2 separate regions of the Homo sapiens genome follow, and region 1 is reported to be linked to region 2. The links are microRNA targets in miRTarBase. Many come from high-throughput screens and were not tested one by one. Region 2 holds a microRNA gene; the other region holds the end of a gene's coding sequence.

What was found. The annotated mature microRNA hsa-miR-615-3p reads UCCGAGCCUGGGUCUCCCUCUU and lies in region 2 at 1,277-1,298, opposite strand. An mRNA with a match to its seed (bases 2 to 7 or 8) in the 3' UTR can be bound and repressed. Matches are read on the target gene's strand: a 7mer-m8 pairs with bases 2 to 8, a 7mer-A1 pairs with bases 2 to 7 and ends in A, and an 8mer does both.
Region 1: miRTarBase lists MTSS2 as a target of hsa-miR-615-3p. The part of its 3' UTR that is shown has no 7-base or 8-base seed match.

What each region holds. Positions count from the first base shown.
Region 1 is chr16:70,659,457-70,664,527 of GRCh38, reverse strand. It overlaps MTSS2 (MTSS I-BAR domain containing 2), which reads left to right. Exons shown (of 15, transcript NM_138383.3): 15 at 79-3,324. The coding sequence ends at 851. It overlaps IL34 (interleukin 34), which reads right to left. Exons shown (of 6, transcript NM_001393494.1): 5 at 4,775-4,910; 6 at 3,846-4,531. The coding sequence ends at 4,341. Among named protein-coding and RNA genes, the nearest start is that of IL34, 15 kb to the right of the region's middle.
Region 2 is chr12:54,030,235-54,035,307 of GRCh38, reverse strand. MIR615 (microRNA 615) reads right to left here and starts at 1,358; the gene lies at 1,263-1,358. It overlaps HOXC6 (homeobox C6), which reads right to left. Exons shown (of 2, transcript NM_004503.4): 2 at 4,485-5,073. It overlaps HOXC5 (homeobox C5), which reads right to left and starts at 2,258. Exons shown (of 2, transcript NM_018953.4): 1 at 1,732-2,258; 2 at 1-1,030. The coding sequence starts at 2,185. The coding sequence ends at 816. It also overlaps a transcript of HOXC4 not described here. RefSeq lists a silencer at 1,160-1,219 and enhancers at 1,303-2,454, 2,449-2,743.

The sequences.
Region 1 (5,071 bases), not on the chromosome of region 2:
CCCCTCTGTGCTCACCCTGGTGGGCTGGGGGCAAGGGGCCACCTGGGCCCTGGGCCTCACTGTGTCCCGTGCCCCCAGGCTCCGACTACGACTGCTACTCCGTGAATGGGGATGCGGACAGCGAGGGCCCGCCCGAGTTTGACAAGTCATCCACCATCCCGCGCAACAGCAACATCGCCCAGAACTACCGCCGCCTGATCCAGACCAAGCGCCCAGCCTCCACTGCTGGGCTGCCCACCGCGGGGCTGCCCACGGCCACTGGCCTGCCCTCGGGCGCACCCCCCGGCGTGGCCACCATCCGCCGCACACCCTCCACCAAGCCCACCGTGCGCCGCGCCCTGTCCAGCGCTGGCCCCATCCCCATCCGGCCGCCCATCGTCCCTGTGAAGACGCCCACGGTGCCTGACTCCCCCGGCTACATGGGGCCCACACGGGCGGGCAGTGAGGAGTGCGTCTTCTATACCGACGAGACCGCCTCACCCCTGGCACCGGACCTCGCCAAGGCCTCCCCAAAGAGGCTCAGCCTGCCCAACACAGCCTGGGGCAGCCCATCCCCAGAGGCAGCCGGGTACCCCGGGGCAGGGGCCGAGGACGAGCAGCAGCAGCTGGCGGCCAACCGGCACAGCCTGGTGGAGAAGCTGGGGGAGCTGGTGGCGGGTGCCCACGCACTGGGTGAGGGCCAGTTCCCCTTCCCCACTGCTCTGTCGGCCACCCCCACGGAGGAGACGCCCACCCCACCCCCAGCCGCCACCAGCGACCCCCCGGCCGAAGACATGCTGGTGGCCATCCGGCGTGGGGTCCGGCTCCGCAGGACCGTCACCAACGACAGGTCGGCGCCCCGCATCTTATGATGGCGCCACCCTCCCCATCCTCTCAGGCCCCAGTGCGAGCAGGTGGCCTGGTCTGTGAGCCGCAGGCACTCAGAGCAAAGGCCCAGCCAGGAGAGAGGACAGAGCCAGGGCAGAGGCCATGCCACTTTATGGAAAGACACCTCACTTGGATTCCAGCATTTAAACAGGAAGTGACTTCTTAGCAAGCCTGGCCAGGACGGAGCCTGCAGGCCTGGGCCTGGTTCGGGGTCTGTTTTATGCTCTTCGGTCCCTCCTCTTCCTCCTCTGGGGCCCTGCCTCTTCCCTACCCATAAGCACCAGAGCCAGGGCCGCTGCCCATGACAGAGGGGCCAGGCTGGCCTCCCTTTCACCATCCCGGCCTCTCCCAGGGCTGGTCCTGCCTCAGCTCCTCCTGGAATGCTGGCCCCCCTCTCCCCTGCCTGAGCCCCCTCCTCCCCTCTTGCCTTCTCTCTGCCTCTCCCAGGCCCCTCTCCCTCCAGGAGGCGGGGCGGCTGTGGAGGGGCCAGGTGCACGCTGGGCTGGATGTCTGCTGGGGGCTGGGGGCCAGGGCGGCAGGTTGGAGTTGGGCGGCCAGGCCCCCCGTGTGGGAAGGGAGTTCCAGGGCCCACGCCAAGTCTCAGGGAGGAAACCAGGGGCTGCTTGGGGGGGGGGGTCTTGGGGGCCCTGTGGTGGCTCCCACCCCTCGCCTCCCCCACCCCGTGAGGCTGGCTGGAGGGGGCCAGAGCAGCTCTTTGGAAACTAGGGCAGCAGGGTTAGGAGGCCGGAGGCCCTGGGGTCACCGGCCAGCCACACAGGCACCGTTTTCAGATGTCCACTTCTCATTGGGTACATCAATCTTTTAACTTTGGGGGTCACAGTTTTAGCCACCTTTCGGGGGGTGACTGGAGCAGTAGGAGGTGTGGGGTCATTTTATGAATATAATAAAATGGAGCTGACTGTGGACGAGGACTAAGTGTGGGGGAGAGGGGACGATACAGGGTGTGTGTCTGGGAGTGCCTGGGGGACAGGGACCCCCCGGTGGTCCTATGGCAGGATGAGAAGGGAGGGACTTGGCTCCCCCAGAGCCCGGTGGAAGCTACTGTTCTCTCCAGTGTCTCGAGCGTAGCCAAAATAAGGTTGGGAGGCTCCCGGCCTGTCTGCTGTGGTCTGAGCTGGCTGCAAGCCCAGGTGGGGGAGCGAGTCTGGGAAGATTGGCTTTGACTCTCTGTTGCCGGAGGAGATGCCATCCCAGCACGGCCCCCACTGTAGTCCAGGCTCGTGGTGGCAGCGGGGGCAAGGGGAGGGGCAAGGCTGCCCCCACCCCACGCACCAAGTCACGCCAAGTCTCAGCAGGTAAAAGCACGTGAGCCTAGGGCGAGCGGAGGGAGTCCTGGTGGCCCCGCAGGTCAGGAGGGAAAGCAGGGCTCAGAGGGCATCGTGGCCCCAGGGCAGGGTCCTACCTGGGGGTCAGGAGCACCTTGGTCTTGATGATTGATTGATTGATTGATAGAATGGAGCTGGGTCTGAGCCTCCCAGGCTTGAGCTCCTGGGAGTTCTTGTGCGGTGAGCTGGGCAGCTCCTGGGTAGGTCCGGGCACCAAGCAGGCCCTGATGTGGACAGAGTCCCATCAGAGGGAGCTGATGAAGAATGGTCCCTGTAAGTAAGTCACTAGGTTCAACAACTGCCTGGCCGAGCACTCAGCCCGTGGAGCTCAGGCCAACACCAGAGCCCCGGTTTTAGGGGCCAGGAGAGCAGGTGACCAATTATTTGGGGAGTCTTGGGTAGAATTTCCGCCACACATTCTCCCCAGGGCTGCAGGGGTCTTCCGAGGCAGGGCGGTGGAGCAGGATTCAGGATGTGGTGGGAATAGAGTGAGGGGCAGTGGGTGGGCAGACCTGGGCGTCAGAGGTCCTGATGGGAAAGGAGGCAGGGGCTACCCAGAGAGGGGGGCTCGTGTGGCACAGCCCCCACCGACTCCGCCGTCCCCCTCCCCTGTGAGCCCCGGGGGCTGTACATACTCTACTCCATCCCCTTGTCCATCCCTGAGACCACCCCCGCCGCCCTTGCGTCGACTTAGCAACCACCTCATAGGCCCACCCACCTCGGGATCCGAGCCAACCATCCCACATCACAAACTTTGGTTTGGGGGACTTTACGTTCGTTTAATTTCTCATTTTGTACGGAGAAATATTCTTTTCAAAAGCGTCTTTTGACTGAAGTAACTTTCCTGGTGCTGTTGTTAACTCGTTCCTTTTTTTAATTTATTCCCCCACCCCAGGCAGCCCTCCTGGTTCCTACTCACCCTCCCCCCCTCCCCCACCCTCCGTCCCATCTGAACCATTTGTTTCTTTTCTTTCCGTCAGATTTTGGAAAAATTCTCCTCTCCTCCCCGCCCCCTCCACACCATCCTCCCCGATTTAAATATAGTCACTGCTACAAGTAACAGATGCACTGTGAAGATTCCAGTATTAATAAAGGTGTACTGTAATTAACACCCCTGCCTCTGCCTGGCTGCTTCCTACCCCATCCCCACACCTCACCTTTCCCACCCCAGATCCCAGCTGCAGGGGGACAGGCTGGGGGTTCCCAGAGGATCTCAGATCTCAATGTAGGTGCCAGGGCCAGACCTGGGTCTCTGAAATGTCCCATATGTGTCCCTGCTAGGGGCTGCCTGGGGGCAGCCAGATGGAGGGAGGGAGGGAGAGAGGGAGGGAGGGAGAGAGGGAGGGAGGGAGGGAGGATGGCAAGGGTCAAAGCCAAGGTATCAGCCCAACACCGCCTCCCCCAACCCAGGCTTGCAGAGGCCCCTGGGCTGGGCTGGGCTGGGCTGGGCTGGGCTGGGCTGGGCTGGGCTGGGCCGGAACTCCATCCCTGGCATCCCTCTCATTCCACATCCCTTGGGCAGGCTCCATCCACTCCAAATCCGCATCCTCAGCCCTGCCCCCCTCCACTTCCTGCACTTGGCCACCTCCCATCCCCGCCAGGTTCACCCCTGAAGATGCAAAGCAAAGCAAACCAAAGGAAGTGGGGTGTTTAATAGAAAAAAGAAACTGGAAGAGCATCCACTATGGCAAGATGTGGCACTTGGCACCGCCCTCTGCCCCCAGCTCCCCAGTCTGCCAGGCTGGGGGGTCATAGAATGGCCACGCCGTGCTGGCTGTCTCCCCTGCAACCCACAGCTGTGCCCTCACTGCTGCGGGCCACAGGAGGCTCAGTACCCCCTTTAGGCGGGGGGACAGTGAGGGCAGCACCAGGAGAAGCCAGGAGCTGTGTCCCCATCCACCTTCAGGTCCCCAGGTCCCCTCCGCTCCAGGTGAGGCCATGACAGCTATGGAAGGCAGGAAGCTGAGCCCTGCTGTGGCACAGAATCCCCCTCAAAGGAAAAACACCCTTCCCAGGGGTCCTCTCCCAAGGGGGGCTCCCACCACCACCCCTTGAAGTCTCAGACCCAGTTGAACTCCTGTGGGAGCTGGTCTGGCTGCCCCTATCCGCAGTCACCATCCAGGGTGCTCAGGGCAAGAGGCCCTCGCCCTGTGCCCTGACCGGCCTCACCGAGCCCGTGGAGTGAGGCGGGGAGCTGGGGGACCACGGGGGCGGAGGGTACAGCTGGGTGGCCGCATACTGCAATGAGGGCTCTGGGCTGCAAGACTGAGGACTTGGCACCTCACAGTCCTGCCAGTTTAGGACGGAGCTTTGTTTACCTGCAAGAGATAGGGGAAAAAAAAAAAGACTGCAGCAGTGTTCAAGACCACCCTCCCCACTAAGCCAAGCCGCATGTGCTTGTCCCCCACTCTACCCAGGGCCCATCCTGGCTTCCAGAAATGGCTTGTAGCCCCGGGGAGCAGAGGATATGCCCGGGAGGACGCCAGCTCTGCCAGCTGGCCTGGGTGGGCCCAGATGCCTGGCCTCCCACCCCCAGGCGCCATCCCCTGAGAGCTCCTTACAGCAGGAGCAGTACAGCAGCTCCATGACCCGGAAGCAGTTGTCCAGCAGGGCTTTGGGCCGCACCAGCTTCAGGTTTGGCCCTGGGGCATTCAAGAGGGACAACACGGATTCCACCTTGGGGCTGACCTCCACATCCTGGAAAGGAGGAAACAGTCAGGAGCGGTGGCGAGATGGGGCCGCACCCCAGGAGAGCCGTGAGGGCTGTCCAGTCACCTGGAGCTGCCCAAACCCCGGAAGAAGGACCAGACTTCCTGTGACCATGAGCCTGGATAGCTATTTCTCACCATCTTCTTCCT
Region 2 (5,073 bases):
CCAGAGTCAATAAATAGTTGGACAACAGCAATGGGTCAGGAGGGCACAGAAATTCGTGGCAGGGACTATGGGACAGCAAAGGGCCTCTAGGACCACTTGCTGGGGTCCAGTGCCAGGAAACCCCACTAGTTGAGCTAGCTAGCAGGCTGGGGCTGCCGGCCTGAGAGGGCATGCAGCAGGCGCAGGCTGGGGAGGTTCCCGGGTTTTGGGGGGAAGAGGTTGTGGAGATAAGGTTTGGAAAGCATAGAGCAACTGTGGGGGCCCTAGGCCGATGCTCTCCTTTCATATGCAAATCATTCATAAGTGAAAATCTAGTTTAGTCGCTACAAGGAAGCACCCCGAGTCTAGGGCCAGACTCTCGCCAGCCTTTGGCTGTCTAACCCGTCCAGCCGGGAACAAAGGAGAGGGCGAGGTTAGAGGGTCCGGCGAGGGTCCTGTGGCGCGGGCCGGGCCCACCTTAACTCGGGAGGGCCGCGCTGAGGCTGGGAGCCGGAGATACGGCCCAGGCCAAGGTTCGTTCTGCGCCAGCCTGTACGCCGCAGCCCTCCGGGGAAGTCCTGCGGAGCTTGCCCTGGGCCCCGGGTACCGAGCTGAGCCGAGCTGAGGGGAGATGGGGCAGCGCCGACAGCCCCGCGGGAACCCTGGGTCGGTAGGGATGCGGAATGCCAAGGAAAAGCGCTTTTGTCTGTGGGGCCCGGGAGCCCAGTGCTCCAGCACCTGCCCCCGACCCGAAATATAGAGAGGAAAGGCGAAAAGGAAAGGCGCAGGGACAGGAACCGGCTAGGGGCGCGCTCTGCGGGCCTCCCCCGCTGCCTCTAAAGAGCCTCTTTGCTTTTCATTTTGGAATCTTTCTTCCACTTCATCCTGCGGTTCTGGAACCAGATCTTGATCTGTCTCTCATTGAGACACAAGTTGTTGGCGATCTCTATGCGCCTGCGGCGAGTGAGGTAGCGGTTAAAGTGGAATTCTTTCTCGAGTTCCAGAGTCTGGTAGCGCGTGTAACTGGTTCGGGACCGCTTGCCGTCCGTCTCTGGAACATAAACCCCACCCCAAGCCAGGAAGGGGTGAATAGCTTGCAGCGTTCCCCCGTCCCCACCCCAGCCCAGGCCCCCACCCGCGGCCGGAGGGAGAGGAGGCGAGAGCCGCAAGACAGGCCACGCGGGCCGCAGGCGGGCCAGCCCAGCCCAGCCCCGGGAGAGGCGCCTCCGCCCAGGCAGGAAACTTTCCACCGCAGCCTTCACTCTGCAGCCGGAGGGGCTGAGGGGGGGTTGGGGGGAAGAGGGAGACCCAGGCTCGGACCGAACAATAAGCACCCTCGAGATCCGAGCACCGGGGACCCCCCTCCCGCCCCTCCCGAGTCGCTGGAATCCTCCGGAGCCGCAAGCGCCGGCGGAGCCGGCTCCGCAGGGGAGGGAGGGAGGGAGCCGCGGGGGGATCCCCGCTCTGGAGCCCCGCGCTCCTCACCCTTCAGATCCCTCTATTTTTTTAACTCCCTCCCTCTCCCCCAAAAATTGAATATTGCCTTTTATACACGTTTTGTTCCTATGATCCAATTATGTCGTCGTAAATTTGGGCGCACACAGCCTCTAAGCCTTTTAGTGGACAGTTTTACGAGCCATTGATGCCTGGATCGTAAAATTTATGGCCGCAGGTTTTTTTTCTTTATTTGCCCCGCATGGCCTATAAAACCCAGGCGGACCCGAGAGCGCAAAATGAAGTCCTAAAGTTTACCGTGGCTCATGTGCAGTTTGGTCATCCACGGGTAAATCTGTGGCGGGGCCGGTGGCTGGCTCAGTCCGGCGGGCTGCCCTGTCTGCGCCTGCTCCTCTTTGATCTCCCCACTGCTCTTAGCTCGCTCCTCCAGCGCCGGGCGAGCCGCCTTCTGACTGTACATCCCGGGGTTCAGAGGAGCCGCTTCGTCTCTGCCCGGAGCGTGTCCCGGAGCGGCCGCGGCGCTGCAGGCGGGGCGGTCGGGGTGAGCCCGGGGGTTGGCAGCCATGTCTACCCCGTGGAGAGAGTTGGAAGGCGCAGGCGGTGGGAAAGTGATGCTTAAGTCCAATCCGCCGTAGCAGTACCTGGATGCCTGCACCTCTGAGGCCGATCCATAGTTCCCACAAGTTTGCATGTTATAGGCAGGGATATTGGGGCTCTGCTTATAGAATGAATTGGCTACGTAGGAGCTCATGGCGGGGAGGGCCCAAAAAAATTTCTGCACCCTTTTTGATTAAGGGTGATTTGTGACTCTTTGAAGTTGAGGGGTTTTTTGTTCTCCAAAGTGGACAATTTATAGGTGGAGATATCTCTTTCTTTATCCTATGCGCTCTTCCCAAATAAGGGAGCCTTAAATAGAGTCACGTGACTCGAGCGGCCACTCATAAATTTGGCTTGATGACCTCCGGGAGGTTAGTGATGGAAGCCGGCGAAAAGCATCTCGATATGTTGGCAAAGCCCAACCAAGGGGGAGAGGGAGTGAGAGAGAGAAAGAGGGAAGGGGGAGGGAAAAAAAAAAAAAGGTTCTTGGAATTGGGGGTAGCCGGGACAACAAGCCCACAGCGACACCTGGTGCCTATGTGGGGGAATTGCATCCTGGAGCGCCAGCTTGCTTTCCGGTGGCTGGATTTCCTACACTGTGAAGGAGAAGCTGGTTGTTGGGGCAACCCCTGAGCTAGCCTTTTAAATTCTATTTAAAATTGGGAAAAGACGAGGCCCCACTTATAACGCACAGAGTGCTTTTTGTAATGAAAGTCCCGTTCTCCCAACCTCCAGGGTCTTCCAATCTTCAAAAATGGCTGAGGAAAGGGGATTAAGTTAGGTAAGGTGGCCTATGCCCAGGCTGGAGAACCAATGGGGTTTAACTTAGGTTCCCTAAACCAAAGGTAGAAGTCCCTTGCCTCTCAGGCCCTAAGGCTCCACTACTGCTGAAGAGGTGCCTATCAGCAAGAGAAAGTAGAATTAGCTTCTGAAGAGGTAGACAGGACGCCCAGGAGGAGGGATCCTGAGTGGTCAGAACAAGATAGGGGGGTCATGAAGCTGAGGGTGTTGCAGGCTGTTTGGGATGGATCTGGAGGTGAGGAGCCAGGTGGAGTTGGCTAGACCTCACCATGCTAGGGTCCCCAGAGTGGCAACAAGGCAATTTTCAAGTGTGTGTGTGGACACGGACAGAGCCAGACAATGGTCTAGAGGACTGCTCTGTTTCCCTGTGTGCGATCCTTATGTGGTACCTATGCCAGAGGTTTTAGACAGAAAATAGATGTTAATTGAGGACATGGAGAAGCAAGATTGAAGCCTCCACAAATATTACGTGAGCATGGCAGAGGAAAAGGCCCGTTATGTGCCCTTTGGGGAAAAGGTCTCTGGGCTAGGCTTTCCAGGGACCTGAATCCATAAGGTTCACAAGAGAGCAATTTCTGAGCTACCAAGAGGAATGGGGCGGACCTGGGGGGTGGGCAGGGCAGGCGCCTGGGTAGCCTTCGCAGGGTATCTGCAGCCATTCGGCCCCATCCTCTTCCCCCGTAGCCCCAAGTCTCATACTTCCCTGCCTGCTTCTTCCCAGGAAATCTCCGCCCCGCCAGGAGAAGGCCCCCTCCTCACTGGTGGAGGCACTGGAGGCGAGGGTGGGGGCGCTGGAGGGAATCTGAAGGGCCCGGAAAACTCTGGCGGATTTTTTCCCTCCGGAGACCCTCCTCAACACCTCTCCCTGTAGGCCCACTCAGGTTTCTCTGGCCAGGCTTGGAGAGAGAAGGCCAGGGTTGATAAATGGTTAGGGTCCGGCTGCGCTCCTCACCCGCCTCTTCACCCGTTTGAGGAGAGAAAAGTAAGGAACCAGCCCGGCTGGAGCTGTAATGAAGAAGGAATTTTGTCCCGGCCACGTCAGGAGTACCAGAGCAGGCGAGAGCTCAGTTTCCAGGCTTTCTCTCTCGAGATGTCCTTGAATCGCTCAATCCCTGCCGACAGGGCTCCAGTCCCGCGGTCTTCTCTTTCCCTCCGCTCTCCGCCTCCGCTACGTTTCGCAACAGCCAGCTTGGCGCGGGCCTGGGGCTTGCTCTCACGGCGCCCCCCGCCTCCAACTCCCGGGAGTGGGTGGAGGAGACCCTGGTGCCTGGATAGTGCTTCTTTACTGGTCTTTCGGGGCGCCTCAGGGTTCGGACGCCGAGGACACCGGCTGCCACAGGCAGGAAGAAAGGCCTGCGTGGGGTTGGTGCCCAAACCGACTGATCCCAGCTCCCCCCGCAACAAAATCCTACGCGGCTTTTTCCCGCAGGGTGTGTGTGTTGCTCCGCGCAGGGAGCCCAGAGAGGCCTCCCAGCCCCTCAGTGCGATCGCGAGAACGAACAGAAGGCCGGGGCCGGGCGCCTGGGCTCCGGGGAAGGCGAGTGCAGAGGGCTGGGGGCTTGCAGGGGGCCGGCAGGCGCGGGAGCGCTTGGAGCCTGCTCCAGCTCTCACCCTGAGGCCGGCGGGCGAGCGAATTAACAGAATTCCCGGTATAAAGTTTTAAAAATAATATCAGTTTTATTAAATATTCGAGAACGGACCCAGAGGTTGGATTTATACAGGAGGGTAACACGAAGGGATTTATTTATTTATTTATTTTCTCCTACTGGCTAAACAAACGTCATTCACTTTTTTTCTCTCTTTTTGTAATTTTCCCTCTTTTTTTTCCTTTTTTGAAATTGGATAGGAACACTGACGGTGCTAAACATAAATATAAATACAGAGACCACAAATACAGCTAAAAATCTTCACACAGAAACGGTCACAGTTTGTAAAATGCCATAATGACCCCCAGGATTCTTTAAATACAATTTGCCTGGGCTGGGCATTTGCTGGGGCAGAGGGGCTAGGCAGGGACTGCGGGGAGGCCCTGGGGGTTGGTGTGGGGCCAAGGCGCGCCCTCCTTGGGCCTCCGGCCCTCCCCGGCTGCCAGGCCGGGCCCTGAGGCCCTGGAGCAGAGGCCCCAGCAGGCCCAGGAGCCGGCTCTCTGCACGGGGGGCGGGGGTGGGGGCGTCGAAGGAGTGGGGGAGCCAAGTCCTCACTTGGAGGGCAATCTGTAGAGTCTGAGTTCAGGGTCCGAGC